3 linked regions of the Homo sapiens genome follow. The protein of the gene in region 1 purifies or fractionates together with the protein of each later gene. This does not show direct contact. Each region holds a gene or a part of one and is shown in the gene's direction. Other genes may lie near its edges.

What was found.
Region 2: the proteins of COLEC12 (region 1) and ZC4H2 purify together in Homo sapiens (affinity purification with mass spectrometry; 2 studies listed by BioGRID and IntAct, with this or other methods). This does not show direct contact.
Region 3: the proteins of COLEC12 (region 1) and CSPG5 purify together in Homo sapiens (co-immunoprecipitation; 3 studies listed by BioGRID and IntAct, with this or other methods). This does not show direct contact.

What each region holds. Positions count from the first base shown.
Region 1 is NC_000018.10:316,142-322,721, reverse strand, and holds the end of COLEC12 (collectin-12), read left to right. Parts: intron 1-914; coding exon 915-1,060; intron 1,061-2,657; coding exon 2,658-2,677; 3' UTR 2,678-5,985; downstream 5,986-6,580. UniProt on the Homo sapiens protein: Scavenger receptor that displays several functions associated with host defense. Promotes binding and phagocytosis of Gram-positive, Gram-negative bacteria and yeast.
Region 2 is NC_000023.11:64,966,434-64,973,548, reverse strand, and holds part of ZC4H2 (zinc finger C4H2 domain-containing protein), read left to right. Parts: intron 1-7,115. UniProt on the Homo sapiens protein: Plays a role in interneurons differentiation. Involved in neuronal development and in neuromuscular junction formation.
Region 3 is NC_000003.12:47,561,774-47,568,888, reverse strand, and holds the end of CSPG5 (chondroitin sulfate proteoglycan 5 isoform 1 precursor), read left to right. Parts: intron 1-6,127; coding exon 6,128-6,289; 3' UTR 6,290-6,651; downstream 6,652-7,115. UniProt on the Homo sapiens protein: May function as a growth and differentiation factor involved in neuritogenesis. May induce ERBB3 activation.

The sequences.
Region 1 (6,580 bases):
ACCCTCCGCTGCAGATGTTCTTCCAGACCCTCCACATGAGGCAGGCTTGTCCTCTCAGGCAGCAGCCACAAGCTTCTGTGCATGAATCTGCTTCTTAGACAAGATTGAACCTTCAAGGGGTGAGTCTGGAAGCACACCTGATTTATTCGTGGAAACGTAATCAAGAACTGTTATCCATGGCAAGGTGCTGTTCTGAGCAGCAGCATCCAAGTTAAGAAGCCCCATGTGAACTCATCCTAAAGAAAACTTGTTTTTAAGAATCTCTCTCCCAAAAAAGGGAGTGAAATGTAGGAGTCATTTTCAGTAAGATTAAGTTACTATTTCTTTCTAAAGCAATCAACCTTCTACAACTCACCCAGACAATCATAACCAGTTATTTGTAATTGTAGGTTCTTGTAAATGTATATCAAAAGTCTTTCACTTTCTCTTCCTGGCTCTTGGACTTGTTAGAGGCAAGATATTGAAATGTACAAGGTCCCTCTGGGTTCTCACAAGATCATGTGTGCGTGTGTGTGTGTGTGTGTGTGTATCATGTCCTCATAATGAATAGATATTCACACACATATATACACTCATGCCCAGAAGTCAGCATTCCAGTACACATTAGAAAGTTATTCATCTAACTGTCCCAAAGCAAGATTCGCTCCCTCTGCATTCTGATGAACCAGCCTAGTGAGTTTGGTTCATGGTAGCAAAGATCACAAGCGCGCAGGGAGATGCCGCATTATGCATTACTCTGCAAAACAGCTGCTCCTTTCTCTGAATAAGAGCATGTACTGATTTTTAAACTGCATTTTCATTCCAGGATAAATGACATGCTTCAATTTTGTTTTTTTATATTCTCTGCTGCTCTTGAGTAAAGAAAAGCTCTGCATTACTGTGCAAATAACATTCAATTTCTGTTTTGCTAAAAGAAATTGGAAAGCTGGACAGCCGGATAACTGGGGTCATGGCCATGGGCCAGGAGAAGACTGTGCTGGGTTGATTTATGCTGGGCAGTGGAACGATTTCCAATGTGAAGACGTCAATAACTTCATTTGCGAAAAAGACAGGGAGACAGGTGAGCAGTAGATGGGATTTAAGAGGGAGCTGCCAGCTTATGTCCTATGAAAGGGTGAGGGGTGGTGAGTACAAGGGCCCTGAATGCAGGCACTGCAATTAGGTTTCAGCCCTGGTTATGCCATTTATTAACTGGGCAGGTGATTAACCTCAGGGAAATAGTAATAGCATCTTCTTCACGAGGTTGTGAAGATTTAAATAAGTTAATAAATGTGCCTCACATGTAGGAAGTACTCAACGAATGCTAAACTAACTGACCCACATAAGTATCTTATATTGTGAGTTAATTGTTCTTTAAAATATAGCACCAGCCAGGCACGGTGGCTCACGCCTGTAATCCCAGCACTTTGGGAGGTGGAGGCGGGCAGATCACCTGATGTTGGGAGTTTGAGACCAGTCTGGCCAACACGGAGAAACCCCATCTCTACTAAAAATACAAAATTAGCCGGGCATGGTGGCGCATGCCTGTAATCCCAGCTACTCAGGAGGCTGAGGCAGGAGAATAGCTTGAACCCAGGAGGCAGAGGTTGTGGGGAGCCGAGATCGCACCATTGCACTCCAGCCTGGGAAACAACAGCGAAACTCCATCTCAAAAAAGAAAAGAGATATAGCACCAATGTTAGTTCTTTTCCGTAGACATCCATACACAGCTAATCCAGGTGGCCAAGCGTTCAATTCCACGTGTATCTATTGAGCATCTACTATAGGCCAGATCCTGTGATACATAATAGAGGGAGATGGTCTGTGCTGCTTATCAGCTCATAAGCCAAAGCAGCTTTTGGAGATTTTCTTGACTTCAAAGGCTATGTATCTAAAGCTTCATTTAACACACGACCCTCTTTGGAATGTGGCATCTTAGTTTTCTTCACCAGAATGAGATTAAAAGTTTGTGATAGGGGACAGAGGAAATGGGGAATGAATGCTAATGGGTATGGGGTTTCTTTTTGGGGTGATGGAAATGTTCTAAAATTAGATTAGATTGGTTCTAAATTGCATAACTTTGTGACTATACCAAAGACCACTGAATTATATGCTTTAAATGGGTGAATTATACAATTTGTCAATTATATTTCAATAAAGCTGTTCATATAAAAACAAAAACCTCAAATATATTTTGGTCAAACTATTTTTGGAAGTAACTGGGGCATAAATTATCCGTATTGCCATTCAACAGACAGTTACTGAGCACCTTTGATGTGTCAGGCATTGGTCCAAGTGCTAGGGACCTTAAGACACATAGGAACTCACAGCTGGGTCAGTTGAGGGGGAAAAACACAGATATCTAAACAAGGGATTATAATTGATGGTGACAAGTAACTCAGATTTGTCTTTTGTATGCTTTGTTTGGCCATTTGGGATTTGAGTAGGGACCAGGCTTTCCCAGAATAGGCTTTTCAAAATGAAACTTGGCTTTTCAAAATGAAACTTATCTTTTCATCCAAATAAGATCTTCTAGACATTTCTTTGAAAATATAAGCATTGTTGAATGATGTATTTTAGACACTGTCCTATAAAAATACACGTTCCCTTTTTTTGAATTGCACATTAACTTTATTATTTAAGAAAAACTAATGCCCATTCTTATTTCTCTCTTTTAGTACTGTCATCTGCATTATAACGGACTGTGATGGGATCACATGAGCAAATTTTCAGCTCTCAAAGGCAAAGGACACTCCTTTCTAATTGCATCACCTTCTCATCAGATTGAAAAAAAAAAAGCACTGAAAACCAATTACTGAAAAAAAATTGACAGCTAGTGTTTTTTACCATCCGTCATTACCCAAAGACTTGGGAACTAAAATGTTCCCCAGGGTGATATGCTGATTTTCATTGTGCACATGGACTGAATCACATAGATTCTCCTCCGTCAGTAACCGTGCGATTATACAAATTATGTCTTCCAAAGTATGGAACACTCCAATCAGAAAAAGGTTATCATTGGTCGTTGAGTTATGGGAAGAACTTAAGCATATACTGTGTAAACAGTGCCATACATTTCTAAAATCCCAAGTGTAGGAAAAATATGCAGACATACAGATATATAGGCCAACTATTAGTAATAATATGAAATATACTTAAAGAGCTTTTAAAACTTTGTATTTTTGTACAAAATATTTGTCTTTTACAATTTTTTTCCTTTTTTTTTTTTTGTCATTTTACCGACATAATACATGGAGCCAAAGAAAACAATAATGGTACTAATAAAAACTCCTAGGGTTTCCTGTCAGATTTAATTCTACCCAGTGGCAAAGAATTTTTTCAATTGTGGCTTTAAAAAAATAATTAAATATACATGTGTATATATATATATATATATATATTTTTTTTTTTTTTTTTTTTTAATGTTTCATTTCCTCAGAGGAACCAATCACTTGGAATGTCTAGAAATATCCTTGCAGATTTTGCCAGTGTCAATCAAGCCTGCACACATGCACAGTGAAGCGGGCTGTGCCTGCCTTGAGCCCATCACCAGCCAACATTCTTGACGTGTGCCTGACCAGACACAGAAGAAATGGGCAACTCAAGACGTGCTTCCACTTCATTTTGGTGGAGTCGGGAGGTGTGGGGGATGGAGAGGCATCTGTTGGGAAGGGCACTGAATCTGGCCTATCTGGAAGGCCCTGTGTCATGGCTGAGCTATGACTGTACTTGGCATCAGATCCCTACAGAGCCAACATTAACTGTCAGGAACGTATGGCGTCACATCAGCCAAAGGCAGAGATGCTAGAAAGATGGGAACCGGCTACGTGTTACCTGGAAAGTTTGTTTTCTTAAGTCATATTCCAAAAACATAACTCCAAGGCATACGCATGATAAAATGCAAGAATAAACTTTTGGCCACTTTGTGGAACTCTTAAAAGAACCTTTCCAGCCGGGCGCAGTGGCTCATGCCTGTAATCCCAGCACTTTGGGAGGCCGAGGCAGGCAGATGACTTGAGGTCAGGAGTTCGAGACCAGCCTGGCCAACGTGGCAAAACCCCATCTCTACTAAAAATAAGAAAATTAGCCGGGTGTAGTGGCACATGCCTGTAATCCCAGCTACTCAGGAGGCTGAGGCAGGAGAATCGCTTGAGCCCAGGAGGCAGAGATTGCAGTGAGCCAAGATCGCACCACTGCACTCCAGCCTCGGTGACAGAGCAAGACTCCATCTCAAAAAAAAAAAAAAAAAAAAAACCTTTCCTCTGAGCCCATCTTCCTTTCGCTCCTTGACTTTCCTTGACTTGCTGTTGGAAAGTCTAATATGAAAAGGGCTGAAACTAGGCATTAAATATAACTGATGCTCAAAGGTAAGATTTCCATCCAACAGATTCCTTCTCCCTCCCAAGGGTCTTCCCAGGCAGTGCTGCTACTTATCCCAAATAAAATGGTAAAAGAATAAAGACAGCCGGGCGCGGTGGCTCACGCCTGTAATCCCAGCACTTTGGGAGGCCGAGGCGGACGGATCACAAGGTCAGGAGATCGAGACCATCCTGGCTAACACGGTGAAACCCCGTCTCTACTAAAAATACAAAAAAAAAATTAGCCGGGCGCGGTGGCGGGCGCCTGTAGTCCCAGCTACTCGGGAGGCTGAGGCAGGAGAATGGCGTGAACCCAGGAAGCGGAGCTTGCAGTGAGCCGAGATCGCGCCACTGCACTCCAGCCTGGGCGACAGAGCGAGACTCATCTCAAAAAGAAAAAAAAAAAAGAATAAAGACAGAGTTTGACTTTCCCACCTGCGAACAAGTGGACTGTACTGCTTTGCCCACAGTCTCCATTCCCCATTCATGCTGTTTTCACAGCCCAGTAATGGCCAACTGCTCAGCACCTGTGTGCCCTGCTGTCAGGCAGGTGGGACCCACAGTCCTCTGGGCCTAAACTGCTGAAGCCTGCACCACAAGGCGGGCACGGCATTCCAACACCTCTTCAGGCTCAACAGCCTTTAGAGGCTACACTGAGTCCTCTTTTTCATGCTCTTCCTGGTTTTCAAGTGTCAATTAAAATTTGTCTTCAGAAGAAACTTGAAAATAAGTATCTGATGCCGTCATCAGGATAGACTAGTATTAGCTTTCGCAGCTGAAGTTATTGCTCTCCCAGCCCTAATAATAACTTACCAAGTGCTTATTATTTATCAGGCACTGGTCCAAGTCCTTCAATCAGATTGTCTCACCTGATCCTCCCAACAGCCCTAGGAAGCAGGTCTTACTACACTCCCCATTTCACAGGGACTGGGGCTTGGGGAGGTGATGCGGTTTCCTGGGTCACTCCATTACTGAGTAGTGAGACAGGATTCAGACGCAAGCTTTGAAAATGTTCTAATTTTCTTTAGAAGGAAGGGCCCTTCTTAATAGCACACTGAATAAAATCAAATGAATAATCACACATTACAAGATGCCTCCTATACGTCTCTATATTTAGCTACTTACATACCAGGTTTCTTTTTTGTTTGTTTTTGTTTTTAAGACAGAGTCTCGCTCTGTCACCCAGGCTGGAGTGCGGTGGCGCGATCTCGGCTCACTGCAATCTCTGCCTCCCAGGTTCAAGCGACTCTCCCGCCTCAGCCTCTGCAGTAGCTTAGGGACTACAGGTGCGTGCCACCATGCCAGGCTAATTTTTGTGTTTTTAGTAGAGACACGGTTTCGCCATTTTGGCCAGGCTGGTCTCAAACTCCTGACCTCAGGTGATCCACCCGCCTTGGCCTCCCAAAGTGCTGGGATTACAGGTGTGAGCCACCGTGCCCGGCCTACACACCAGCTTTCTATTCACCTACACACAACTGATGCTCTTTTGGAGTGGAGAGTTTTAGTAAAATATGATGGGGTCTTCAGGCACCTGAGTTGCTACTTACTACTATGAGAAGATAGAAAATGTTTTTTCCTCTAAACAGCTTTTGAAAGAATGAATGCACAACAAGGCAAAAAATAAAAACTTTCTTTTCCTTTTCTACGATCAATGTTCAACAACTCGTTCCTTCCAATTTGTAACAGAGTTGAAGCTGAAACAGACAAAAAATAGTAATAGCTGCTCCCATTTAAAGAAAAATGCTTGAGGAAACAGCTGTATAAATCAAGAAACAATACCAAGCAGATGACGAAACTGATCTCTTCTTGAGAACGTAAGCATGTTAGCTCATTCGTGACTCAAAGTCATGTAATAATAGTTGACATATACCACTTTTCACATACATTATCGCTTCCAGTCTTCACGCACATCTATTGTTCCTGCTTGAGAAATGAGGAAACTGAGGCTCAGGTTGAAGACTTGCCCATGGCTCACGTATCTGTCACAGTCACTTTCCAAAAAGCAAATCTGATCAGGTTCCCCACTCAGGTCCCCAAATCTGAATCCATCCTACCTCTCACCCTCGGCTTAAAATCTTCCAAACAATCCTGGTTGGGCTCAGGACATACCTGCAGGGGCCGTAAGGCACTTGGTACCTGGTTCCCAACTCCAAGTCTAGCCTTCTTTCCAGGTGGGACCCATCACCCATGCCCTGGCACTAGCACAGCCAGACTATGCACCTGCACCTTCCACTAGCCTCTTT
Region 2 (7,115 bases), on another chromosome or scaffold:
ATTTATACTGTTATCTAGTGTGGTCTCAGCATATGTAGAGGAAATATTTAACACATTTATATTGTAAACTGGGGAATGTAAAGGGGATTGTAAATGTAAAGAGATGTAAAGGGGAGGACATGCTTCTACACTTCATTCAAGCATGTAAAGTGGTAATGTCAGAAGACTATTAAATAAATTATGTATACATAATATATTACTGAGAGAAAACACTGAAAATGCTATACAAAGAAATGTACTCAAAACATTATAAATAAATCAATATGAATTTTTAAAAAATGCTCCAGTCACCCACAGGCAGGCAGGGCAAAGAAAATGGAGAAACTAAAATTACGGAGAATGAACAGAAAAAAAAATAAAAAGGCAGACTTAGCCTTCATGTATCAATAATTATGTTCACAACAAATAGTCTAAATACCTTGCAAACATTAATCAAAATAAAGCAGGAATGGCCATCTTAATATCAAATAAAACAGACTTCAGAGCAAAGAAAATTCCTAGAGATGGATATTACATAATGAAAAATAGTCAATCTACCAAGAAGACATAACAATTCCAAATGTGTGTGTTCCAAAAGTGACTTAAATTAAACTGCTTTTGACAATTTTACAGTAATATACAAAGGTTAAGCCACTTGGTTTAAGAATTTAAAATGGAGAAAGTACTATAAATATATACTTGATGTTCACATATGGACAGATAAACATGTATGAGAGATAGAAATAAGGAAGGAGCAAAGGGTCAAAGAAACTGAAGAAAGGAACTAACATTTGTCAAGCACCTTTTAATTTAAAAGCTCCTGGCTCATTTACTCTTTAGTCTTCCCAAAGGAAATCTGGGATAGGAATTATTACCCCCACTTTACGGATAAGGACATTGAGGATCAGACAGATTAGGCAACTTTCCCATGGTTACACAGCTAGGAAAGAAAAAATAATATATCCTCCTATTCACATGGCATGCACATTTCAATGTTATTAACTGCCCTTACAAATGCTGATTATCTGATTAACCATTATTCACAGTTCTTCAACTGCTATAATCCTAAATCTCCTGAAGTATAAGCATAGCAGCATATTTCTGTTAAAGAAATAATGTTTGCTGGACAGAAGCAGGAATGATGACAGCAGCATCATCTAATGACCTATTGAAGTCAAGCTAAGAGCCTTACACACATCAAGACACGAGCCCAGAAATATATGCATTCATACTCAGCACTCACACCAATGGCAGAATTTGCAGTGGGAAAAACATCAGAAGCAGATTCTCCCACCACAGACCATTTTCTGCTTCTAACTCTGAACACACGCCTACCCCTGTCTTTCCTCCCAATCCCAATCACACTCCCACATTATGTTCCCAACCTCAGCCTCCAAATCCTACACTAATCTATTTTGCCCATGTTTTCCTTGGACTTTTAAATGGTGATGAAGGAGCATGTAGATAAGTGGAAGAAGAGAGACAAGAATGGAACAAAAGAAGGGAGATAGAAAAGAGGGAAAGGGAGGATAGCAGTAATAAAACAGAGACAGTGAGTACAGGCACCATTAAATGGACCAGAGCCCTACACCAGCTCCCCAAGTACAAAACAATATTTCCTTAAAATGCACATGCCATCCATTCATGTGTATTGCGTACACTCACACCCCGATGTACACATATCCATACACAAAGAGCTTTCCTCACTTGAAAAAAAGAAAAACCATTTTGGAAGGAGATGTTGAGTTAAGTAGGTACTCTTAAATGAATGTTTCTCGACTGGGTCCTTCTTTTCTTTTTTTCTTTCTACACACTCTTTTGAGTAAATTCCTGTACTTCCATGGCTTCAAATATTATCCTCCAAATCTCCAACCTCTATACCCCACCCACATTCATGCTTTAGCCCATACATATGACAGCCTACTGGGCTTGTCCGCCTGGAAGTTTCACAGATAAATCTCAGCTTTATATCTACGTCTCTTCCTACAGCAATCAAGCTCCTCCCCTTAAACCTTTGGTTTAATACCACCATTCTCTGCACAGTTACCTCAGATGGCAATCTGAAAGTCAATGTTGACTCCCCTTTCTCTTTAATGACTCACCTGCAATCACTTAGTTAATTCTATTTCTATCCTGAATATCTTACCCAATACCTGCCCCACTCTCCACCTCCCAGTTCACTGCTCCATTTCAGGCCTTCATTATGAATTGGCATGGATATTTGTAATGCAGTATCCATTTCCATCTGAAGAATTACTTCCCTGTCTACAGTCTCTCCTCTGTCTGCAATGGCATCCACATTGCCTTGAGAACTACCTTCCTAAAGCATGGTTGTTATTTTATTTCTCAAACATCTTCACTAACTTTTCATTGTGTATGACAATCTTTTTGAAAAATACAGGCTGCGTCCCATTATTAGCTCATAAAAAGAATTTAGTTGGTCACTAGTAGCATTTTTAAAAAACCTTTTTTAAAATAAAAAGGAAATTATCAACATACATTGCATATGAAGTAGTAGGTATACTTTGGAGAAGGTTTTGTTTAGTTTTAAATATGTGTATGTGTGTATTGTGTCATGAGGTGAAATTCATTTCTCACTTACGTCATTTCTTACTGTGTCTCTGTTGAACACACATTTACCTATCGGTGTTTCCATGGCATTCATGCTGCCTCCCCGGAAATCTGTCCCATACCCACTATTCTGACCTTATCTGCTACTGCTTTTTATTAATCCTATCCTTTAGCCATATAGAAGTTCTTACTGTTTTATATATTTCCGTTCCACCAGACCTTTGCCTCTGCAGATTCCTCGTTCTAGAATGCCACTCTCCCATTCCAAGCATCTAAATCCTACTCATTTTTCAAGGAAGACCCATATGAAATGCCTCGTCTTCTCCAAAACCTTCTCGAGTTCCCCAGTCAAAATGAATTACAATACCCCAACCACAGACTCCACAGGGAGATTTATTATAGCACTCAAGTTATCCCATCTAATGATGGAATTTTGAATTGATATCCTCCCTTCCTTCCTCCCTTCCTTCCTTCCTTCCCCCCTCCCTCCCTCCCTCCCTTCCTCTCTTCCTCTCTTCCTCCCTTCTTCCTTTCCTTCCGCCATTGGTGTGGCAGTCTTGGTAAGCTCCTCTGTTACCTGGCTTGGGGATTGACTCAGAACCAGTGCTTACTCAAGACCAAGGCACAGGACAACTGGAACCTCTGGGACTTGTGGATGGGCAAATTAAGCCAAACAATGCTGGCCACAGGAGAGACTGAAAAGGTGTTGGCATTTGGTATTGAGATGTAAGAAAGTTATCAGAATGAACTGTTATAAGAAATCTACTTTGCTGACAGTAGCTTTGTTTCCAGTTGAGCAAATAAATATTACATGGAAGAATGCTTAGTACTTAGGCAATATTCTCACCAGACTGGAGTAAGCAGGAAAAACTAGCTCCTTTGTGTTCATTCAGTGACATTTACTGAGCATAAATCTGGGCCATAATCAGGGCTGGGCTATCCTTTGGTGGCCCATCACTTAGGATAAATAAGACCCATCAGAAGGATCTTCTAATCAAAGTCAATAGCTCTGATCTCTCCCTTGAGTTCCAGACTCACATATCTAACTGCCCATTTAACTTACACCCTTGCATGTATCACTGGCATCTCAAACAGGCCCTCAACTCCAGCCCCACCCCTAAACATTTTTATTTCCCAGTCTTCCCCATCTCAGTAAATGCCTCACTATGCTGAAATCTGGAAGCCATTCTTTATTCCTCTTTTTATGTGACCCTCTCCATCCACACCATTAGCATAGTGGTTATTATACTTGACCATGCAGGAGGTTACACCTAAAGGGCTTTTAAATCATTGATTGCTGAGCCCCATTTCCAGGGTCTCTGATTCAGTAGATATGGAGTGGGGCCTGAGAATTTACATTTCTAACAAGTTCCCAGGCAATGCTGCTGCTGGTGGTGCAGGGACTACATGTGGAGAACAACTGCATTAGTAAGACCTGGCCAGTTATACCTATACAATATAATCTGGAATTGTCCACTTCTCATCATCCCCTCAACTTATTAACAAATACCAGCACTTTTCCATCAATCTCCAGTAAACAGTATCTTTTCACCTAATTTTCCCATCTTCAAGGCCTACAGGTCCCAGCTGTCCTACCCTGCTTTTTGAGTGTGCATTGGGGCTGAGTCACCTCTGAAACTGGGTGACAGATGAGCCTGCCAAGTTTGTCCCAGCAATGGATGATCCATGGCCCTAGAACTTCTCCTTCTTTGCACCTGTCCTCTTCCATATTTGCCAGAAAGAAATCATTGAAAAGAAGGTATCCAGCTGAATGTTTTATAGTCTTGGCTCAGGAGACTGTCTGGAGAACCTGTGGCCTAGCAGTCTGCTATGATTTGAATGTACCCCAAATTTCATGTGTTGAAACATAATCCTACCATTTTGATGGTATTAAGAGGAGAGACCTTTCGGGAAGTAATTAAGTCATGAAGCCTCTGCCATTATGAATGGATTAGTGCCTTAGAAAATGACTTGGAATGAGTTTAGACCCTTTTTTGTACTTCTGTGATTCCACCATATGAAGACACAACATTCACTCCCTCTTGAAAATGCAGCAACAAGGTGCCATCTTGGAAGGAGAGACCAAGCCCCTCACCAGACACCAAATCTGTTGGCACATTGATCTTAAACTTCCTAGCCTTCGGACCTGGGAGAAATAAATTTTTGTTCTTTACAAATTACCCAGTCTGTGGTATTGTGTTATAGAAGCACAAACAGACTAGGACAGGAGCTCAGGAATACTGGTCCAAAAGTTACCTAAGACTGTCATCCTGGTGACTGTAGAAACCCTAAAGTACCCTGAAAACCCTGTGGTTTCCCTGTGGTTCACGAGTCATACTAGCTGTGCTTTAGCCTCTTGGAAAAATCTCATTAGGAAATTTTATATATAAAATTGCATCTTTAATGATCTGGATGGCTTCCTCACTTGTAGGGCCAAACATTCCACAGATTTCATCTCATTGAAGCATCCAACAATTCCATGCAAGGCTACACTGAGTCCTACTTTCCAGGTAGAATTTCCAAGGTGCCAAGAGATTCCATGAAGTGCACTATTTCACCCTGAAAATTGATGACTGAGCCAGGACAAGAATTCACCCTACTGGCCTGGTTTTTATGGCTTTAAATCCATCATATGATGAAAGTTCCTTGTTGTGATGGAAAGGTGATCAGATTTACAACGCTGGATTTTCCACTTCCTGAATTTGTCTTCTTGGGCAAGTCACTTTACTTCTCTCAGCCTCAAATTCTTCATGTGTGAAAATAAAGTGAAACATACCTGCCGATATGGTTCTTATGAAGATTAAATTTTGATAGCATAAAAAGTGCCTAATACAGTTGCTGGAACATAGTAGGCACCACAAATATAATAGCTATTGTTATTAAATAAAGCCTTTCTTAACAGACGGTTGCTTTCAGTTCCTGTCACTTAGATAGATTCTTAATAAATATGAACCAAATGAATGAAATCCTTGCCACCCATGGTAATGTCTTTTCTTCTCTGAGGCTACTGATGCTATAATCACTCCCCTGGATTTACTACCTACCATTCAGTAGTTTCTCATTCCAAATGTAATGATTGAGCCCCGCTTATGGCCAAAGCAGAATGATAGGTGTTGTGGAGGTTAAAGAGAGAAATATGGCATAGTGCCACTGTCTAGAAAGCCCTCGTGTATATAATTACTCTGATTTCAAGTTGCTTCATGCATAAATCTGTACTTTTTAGAGGACCCAGAGGACCATGACTATGTGCCTTGTGCTAGTCCCTTTCCCATCCTGGACCTTTATTTATTCACCTCTGAAATAAAGAGGATAGATTTCATGGGTGACTTTGAAATAATGTTCTGACGAGCCCAGGGAATTCTAAGGAGGGTTTTAAAGGGCCACTGTGATAGAGTCAGGTGGTGGTTGAATTTGAGGACAGATTAATGACTCTGGGGGTCCCACTTCCACTTTAACCATAACAGTTATGATTTGTTCCATTTTCTATATTGGATCTCAATCAGTTATTTTATTTGAAGGAAGGGATCTTATCATTCATCCACAAGAACCAGCGCACTTCTGGATAAATGGTGCTTGCTTAATACAATTTTTAAGTCTGCTTGATTGATGGAAGTTTGTAAAGAGGGAATTTGGTATTGTGAGTACATCTAAGCAGTGACTGGCATGACACTCTTTGTAGATTAGAGAGAGGAAGGGCCTTTTATTTAGATTTAATCTTAGCTCAAACTTCTCAATTGCTGGACAGAGAATGGAAGGCTGGGAATTAGATGCAAATCCTGAAGACCATAGTAAAGGCAATCTACCTCAAATGCAACAAATTATTTATTTATTTATTTATTATTAAGCCATTAAGCTCCTTCTCATTTCTCCTGGCTGCCTTAATCAGCAAACTTTAAAAAAATCCATTCCCTCTACGTAAGCCTTTTGACAAGTCATTTATTTTTCTGGGAAAACATGAGCATGCTTAGAAGTTATGTTTAGTGGGAGTTGTAGGTTTAGATTTAATTCTGGGTGCAGTAAGAGGTCATTACAGGATAATTTGAGTTATATTTTATATACCATAGGAAACATCCATTTCAAGTGTACAATTCAGCATGTTTTAATAAATTTAAAGAGTTGTACAATCATCACCATAATATTTTAGAAAATTTCCATCATTCCAAAATTAGCTCTTTGTTCAGTTTCAGTTGATCTTTGTTCTTATCCACAGCCCCAGGAAACCTGTAATATATTTTCTGTCTAAATAGAGTGGCTTTTTCTTGATGCTGCATATAAATAGTTATACAAATGTGGCCTTTTGGGTCTGCCTTCAGTCACTTAGCTTATTGTTTTTGAGATTCATTCACATTGTAACATGTAACAGTATTTCATTCCTTTTTGTTGACAAATAATATCCCATTGCATGGATATCGCACATTTTGGGTGTTCACTCACAAGTTGAGGAGCATTTCAGTTATTTCCACTGTTTTGGCTCTTATGAATAATGCTGCTCTGCACATTTGTGTACAAGTCTTTTTGTGGAAAAATGTTTCCATTTCTACTGCTTAGATTCTCAGGAGTGAGAT
Region 3 (7,115 bases), on another chromosome or scaffold:
TTCGATACAAAAGGTCTTTTTCTTTTTAAAATTTTTGTAGAGATGAGGTCTTCCTGTGTTGCCCAGGCTGGTCTCGAACTCCTGGCCTCAAGTGGTCTTCCTGCCTCAGGCTCCTAAAGTGCTAGGATTATAGGTGTGAGCCACCTGCCTGGCTGAGAAGATCTTTTTCTAGGGTTACTCATGATTTTTAGCTTCATCTAAGCTTTAGAAGTCTGATTATTGTCTTATTTTCCATATCAAGGAGAAAGGCTCTGCTTTCACTGCTGGGGAATTTCATGGTGGTCAGTGAAGCAAACGGTGGTTGCTCTTTGGGATGGGTGGAAAGACTTCTGTGTCCTTGCTGCTATTTGAGGATCCTAAGAACTGGCAGGGTTATACACAGCTGGTTAAGGCCAAGGCCCAAATACAAAACACTGGCAGAGCCTTAAGTCCAGGAGTAATCCTGTTCTTAGGAGTATGGGCTTATAAATATCAGTTGAAATCCAATAAAAGATCCTAATAGACCATTTTCTAAAGACCCTGGCCTAGTGTATTGCCTGGATTAGACTGACCAGTCAAATACTAGAGAGAATTTCAAAAACAAGGCAGAAACCATATCCAAATCTCAAATCATGCCACATCCAAATCCTAGAATTCTCTATATAATGCAGGTTCCATACTTCAAGATAAATGCATTTTTACACAGATTATTACACAGATAAGCAAGTTAAACTGAGACTTCAGACTGAAGCAATGGACTTTAAGAGGAAATTTAGAAGAAGTTCTTAGAAATCATGGACCATAGAGTGTCAGACCTCACAGGGGCCTCAGCACTCTAGACCAATACGGTCCAGTGGAACTTTCTGTGAAATGGAAGTGTTCTATATCTGCTCTGTCTACTACAACAGCCACTAGCCACTTGCGGCTGTAGAGCTCTTAACTACCACATTACACAGTGCAGACCTAGACTCCTGGGCTCAAGTGATACCCCTGCCTCAGCCTCCTGAGTTGCTAGGACTAGAGGCATGTGCCACCACACCTGGCTAATTATTTTAACTTTTGTAAAGTTGAGGTTTTGCCATGTTGCCCAGGCTGGTCTCGAACCCCTGGGCTCAAGTGATCTTCCTGCCGCAGCCTCCCAAAGTGTTGGGATTACAGGTGTGAGCTACCATGCCTGGCCTTCTTCCTTTTATAGATGGGGAAATTGCAGCCCCAGAAGGGGGAAGAGAGAATAAGAGTAAATGTGTGGCCTCATTCACAAAACCCCAGAACAGGAAATTTTGGCCTGGTAGAGGAGAAGTAAATGGGTGAATTTAAATATGAAATGAAAGAGGTAAACTTAGGATAATTTTTTAAAGTCTTTGATATAAAGGGTAGAAAAAGAACAGATTATTTCACTTGGTTTGTACCAAGATACAACAAGTAAGGTCAAGATGAACATTATAACCAAGGAAACACTATGTCTTATAAACTCTAAAATTGGTCACCATGTTCATCAACCCACAGAGGGCAGGACAGAGTCTCGGTGAGCACATTATCCCGCCCTCTGCAGTAACATGCACACAGTTACCACTTGCTGAATACTAGTGAGTGATGGTGGGCTATGGGGGCTCTCAGTTCCATTGGCTGATCTGCCATCCTGCAGATGGCAGCAGGTCTGCCAGGACGGGAGCTCCTGTAGTCAGCATGTTCACTGTCCACGGTTGGACAGAGTCCTCCCACTCTGCTTGACAGAGTGCAAGCATCCTTAGGAAAGTTTCTGACCCTTGTGTTTCTAATACCACAGCTTCAGACACCTTTCTTCTTCTCAGAGGGGGAAAAGAAAGAGCTCCTCTTGGAGGGCTTGGCTACACAGCCGGTGCGAAGGTTTCTTGTTCTTGGCTGATCCAGCTTTGTGGAAAGTGAGGCTTTTGTACCTGAACGCTGCCACTGACCCTTAGTTCAGAAGATGGCAAGCCTTGAAAACAGCAGAGCAGGGGGTGGTCAGCCACGGGAGGGTGGTGGTCGGCCACGGTGTGTGGTTGGCCACAGGCAGTGGTGATCTAGCATGGGGCTTGGGGGTCAGCCACAGGGCGGGTGAGGCTGGTCGGCCATAGTGGGCTCTGCCTGAGACAGGGTGATGGGGTGGCCAGGGCGGCACTCAAGCCATCCCTTAGGAAGCAGCAAGATCTGGCTCTGGTTCTCTCCTGGCTCCTCTTGGATCTTGAGGCTGGTGCCTTTTTTTATTGTAACCAAATACCCAGACTTCAAGGAGATTGAGGCTGGTGTCTTTCCGTCAGCTTGTGCCCAAGGGGACATCATCTTCTCCTCTCTGAAAGCACTGTGGATGTGAGGGGTGACTCTCCTATCCAGCAAGGAATGTAGTGGTGGATTTTCTACCTTCATCTCTAATTCTCTCCACCTCATCCAAAGGTCAAACTTAGTCATATTCAAGATCTTGTGGGCATTGCCGATGAACACGGTTGCCACTTGTTTGTGAAGTGAAGCCCTGCTCACTGCTACAGCCGCCACACTCACTGCCTGCAAGGGGTGCCAGCAGCCGGGGAGAGTGAGAGATCCTCCAGATGATACGGGAGGAGAGACAAGGGGGCGCCGGAGTCCAGCCTGCCTCGTGGCTTCTCCCCACCCCTCTCTCCCCACCCCCAAACTCCTTGCTGGTATTGGTTTTCTCTAAAATTTTGGAGAGTTTTATTTATTTGCATCGAGGTGTTATTTCTTTTACATACGTAAAATAGATTGAGCAGGTCATTTTCCTACACTGTCGCAATCACCTCTACCAGCCACACTCTGAAAAGATTGCAAGCAAAAAAGTCTGGGGCTTTGGGCCTGTGACAGGGAAGGGTCAGTGGCTGGTATCTGTGCCGGTGGCACCTCTTTCCCTCCTCTGCTCCTCTCTGCCCTCAGGCTGATGTGCGGCTCTGTAGCTGGTGGGCCTTAGGCTGAGTCTGTGTGAGTGTCTTGCGTAGCTGAGCAACCAGCCTTGAAGGGTATGTCAGGAGGCACAGAGAATGTAGGAAGCTGCCCGTGCTCCAGGCACACTGCGTGAATGAAGCCACCAGAAACCCAGGGCAGCTGCCCCAACACTGGGCTGCCCTGATGGTCCTCACAACGGTGCTGTCGAGACCATGGGGGTAACTTGGGTTGTGCTAAGATTTGACAGACCTTCCGGGATTTCAGTTTATTCCTAGGATTTCTCCATTGATGTTCCTGTGCTTTTTTTTTTTTTTTCCTATTTAACTCTTTCCTACTCTCCAGACTCTTCTCTTGCATGTATTTGTTAAAGCACTGACTGCCCACCCTCTTCCAATAGATGTTTGCCTCTGGCCAGGCCTGAACCCACATGACCCCTGGGTTGAAGGGTGCCCATACTGCTGGGATTGAATGCTGGGAGCAGTGAGTCCACAGTGGTTCCTAGGAACTTATGCCAGATGTTGATCCAGCTCCCTTGTGATGAGGTACTTCTATTAAGTCAAAGGCAGTTGGACCTGCTGTGGAATTCAGCTACCCTTGGCTTAATAGGATCAAGTTCTGGAGCAAACACCTGAGTTAGGAGAGCCCCATCTTGGTGTAGACATTCCTTTGCCTCTTGTGTTTGTTGGAGGTATTCAGCTTGTCTAATAGCACTGTTTGCATATCTCTTGCTTTTGGGATATGCTTCTTCCATCCCTTGGCTCAGAAGACAGTTTTCTAATCTAGATCCCATGAGCCCTCGAGGGCTCAGGTTTAATCTGGGAGCCCACCTTCATGGCATCAGAGCTCTGAGACCAGGGTCTGTGAGGAGTCACTTAGTCCACTTTTCTTCACATCATGAGAATGTTTCTGTACCCCTGTATGCCCCCAGAGAATATGTGATGAAGGAGTTGAGGGTGGGAGGTTATCTTGAAAGACATAAAAGCAAGTTGTATCCTTGTAAGAGGAGAGGTGATTATAGGTCCTCTTGTCCTGTTCTAGATTTTAGTGTGATTCAAAGTCCATCCTACCTAAGATACTTATAGCTCAGCTCTCCAGCTTTCATGACCATGGTTTCCCCCAAACAGTACAGAAGTACACGAAATAAAAAAGTGCAGCTCTACTTCACCCCCACCTCCCTCTCCGTAAAGTACACACGTGTGTATATATATATACACACACAAACACACACCTATATCTATATTTTTAAAACATAAATGAGAGTTTGCTATACATGTTCTACCCCTTACTTTTTTTCAATCAGTGTATGATGGAGATCTTTCCGTCTCAGGAGATGGACATTTATGTCACTGCACAGTGTTTTGTGATTCTAAGCAGTGATTGACCATTCAACTGGCCGCGCGTGCTGTGTGCAGCTGCCTTACCTGACATCTGCCTCAGTACTCTATGAAGTTCATTTTCTTGTTCTTGTCTCATTGGAACAAGAAACATGTGTTCCCCTGTCTATAAATCATGTGTGAAGTCTTTGAAACTCTACTAAATTGTCCTCCTTAATCTGGGCCTCTGGAGAAGCACCGAGTGAGGCTGTGGGCAGTGGGCAGCTGGCAGTGATTTCCATATGCACAGAACTCATGGATGCCCCGGTGTCCTGTGTGTACAAGAACCATGGAAAGCCCGGGGTCTCTCCCTACTTTCTTTCCAACTCATCACTCCCATAACCTAGTGCTGTTATGGGTCAAACTTGGTAGCAGGCAGCACAGACGAGGGCTCACCAGACTTCTCTGGAGAACACTCTGGTCCTTAAGCATGATGGTAATCTTGAATTTTGGTAGTGGTTAAAGCAAGAATGGCCTTAGCTAGCTGGTCAGATTAGGACACTCTCTACCTTCTTGTCATCCATGAATCTGCCTTAGTGGTTACACACTGTCTTCTATCAGCAGAGTTCCAAGCACTTACAACAGCTATTTGGGGCACCAGAGAAAGAACTGAGGCCCACTGAATTGCACTGGGTATATTCCCCTTAGGTGGTCCTAAAGGAAATGAGTAAAGCAAGATTTGCCACAGAAGTTCTCTGAACGTGCAGAATGTAGACCTGGAGGACTATGTGCTAGTGTGAGCTTCCTGAGAACCTTTAAGAGGCAAATTCAAGCCGGCGTGGTGGCTCACACCTGTAATCCCAGCACTTTGGGAGGCCGAGGTGGGTGGATCCCTTGAGGCCAGGAGTTCGAGACCAGCCTGGCCAACATGGTGAAACCCTATCTCTACTGAAAATACAAGTTAGCCGGGCATGGTCACGAGCGCCTATAATCCCAGGTTCTGGGGAGACTGAGGCACGAGAATCCCTTGAACCCAAGAGGTTCAAGATTGCAGTGAGCCGAGATCACACTACTGTACTCTGGCCTGGGCGACAGAGCAAGACTCCTTCTCAAGAATAAATAAATAAATACATCAATAAATACATAAATACATAAAATGCAAATTCAGCTCAGGTTCAGGAGTTTGTCAGAGGGAGCTTGTCACAGGGCTGTAGGCAATATACATGGATTATTACATTAGAATCAGCAGTACGAATATCATGTGATGCAGAGTGTGGCAAGCCATTGAGGCAGCCAGGGTCATTCGGGCTTGGATTGAGGACATACCTTTTTAGCTAGCATCTTTTAGCAGGTTCACTTGTGACAATGAGAGGCTGACACATCTTTGACCTCTAGTCAGCGGAGATGCTCTTACTGTGGGGAGAGAGGCCCCAGCATAGTCAGGAGCAGTTCTGCACTTTACCAGTTCTATGCATACCCCACTGTATACACTGATGAGACATGTTCCCTGACCAAGACATCTTTGTGAAAGCAAAACTCAACAGGATGGAAGGCCAGAGGAAGGCCGGGCTCAGCAGGCCCCGCAGAGCTCATCAACACATGAGGCTATAGAGGCGCCTGGGCCAAGGGACTCTTTCTCCCCAATCTCTGTCCAAGAGAAAACCTTGGACATGGCACAAATTAAAGTTATTTGTAAACTGATTACTGTCAAGTTTTCCTCTCTGCCTGGCCATTTCTTGTAAGGATGACTTTCCTAAAAAGTTGCTGCTAATGAGTTACTTTGGTTCCTTTTAGTTCATTCAAGTCTTGGAGCTTTTTCCTTGTTTCAGTGATGCTTCCTTCAACCAGATAGAAAACGCTGATATTATTATTTGGTTGCTGTATGCATTGTCTCCCCCCCCCCAACTTTTTCCCTCTTCCAGGATGATCCTAGTGCTCCCCACAAAATCCAGGAGGTTCTCAAGTCCTGCCTGAAAGAGGAGGAGTCATTTAACATCCAGAACTCCATGTCGCCCAAACTTGAGGGTGGCAAAGGTGACCAGGCTGACTTGGATGTGAACTGTCTTCAGAATAATTTAACCTAAAGCAGAGCAAGAAGAGAGGAAGCGGGGGTAGTGGGTGGGGGGTAGGGGAAGAAACATTATCTCCTCTTGTACAGAGTCTATTTCTTGTAACCATTTGTTAAACTCTTTTCTTTTTCTGATCTCATGGCATGCTTTTATGTATTTTGTACAGGAGGCAAAAAAATACTTAAAATAAGCAAAGAAACTGAACAGAATTGCATACATTGGGTTGTTTTTTCTGTGCTGTCTGTACATTGCTTCTGCTGCTGTGATTTCTAAACCTGTGCTGTTATTCAACTGACTTTTTTTTGTACTTTGACCCACGTTTTTTTGAAATACCAGTAAAAAACAAAGTTCTTGAAATAAAACTTTTTAAAAAGTTATTCATTTTCTTAGTCTTTGTGTCCACTCCTTTAAGTTTGAGTTGAGTAACCTTCATTGAAGATGTTTGTTTATTTATTTATTTATTTTGAGGTGGAATCTCGCTCTGTCACCCAGGCTGGAGTGCAAGGCTCACTGTAGCCTTGACCTCCCCAGCTCAAGTGATCCTCCCACCTCAGCCTTCTGAGTAGCTGGGACTACAGGTGCAAGCCACCACACCTGGCTAATCTATAAATTTTTTTTGGAAAGGCAGGGTCTCACTATGTTGCCCAGGCTGGTCTCAAACTCCTGGGCTCAAGCAATCTGTCTCCTCAGCCTCCCAAAGTGCTGGAATTACAAGTGTGAACCACTGCACCTGGCCAAAGATGTATATTTATTTATATTTATTTATTTGTTTATTTATTTTTTGAGACAGAGTCTCACTCTGTTGCCCAAGCTGGAGTGCAGTGGCGCGATCTCGACTCAA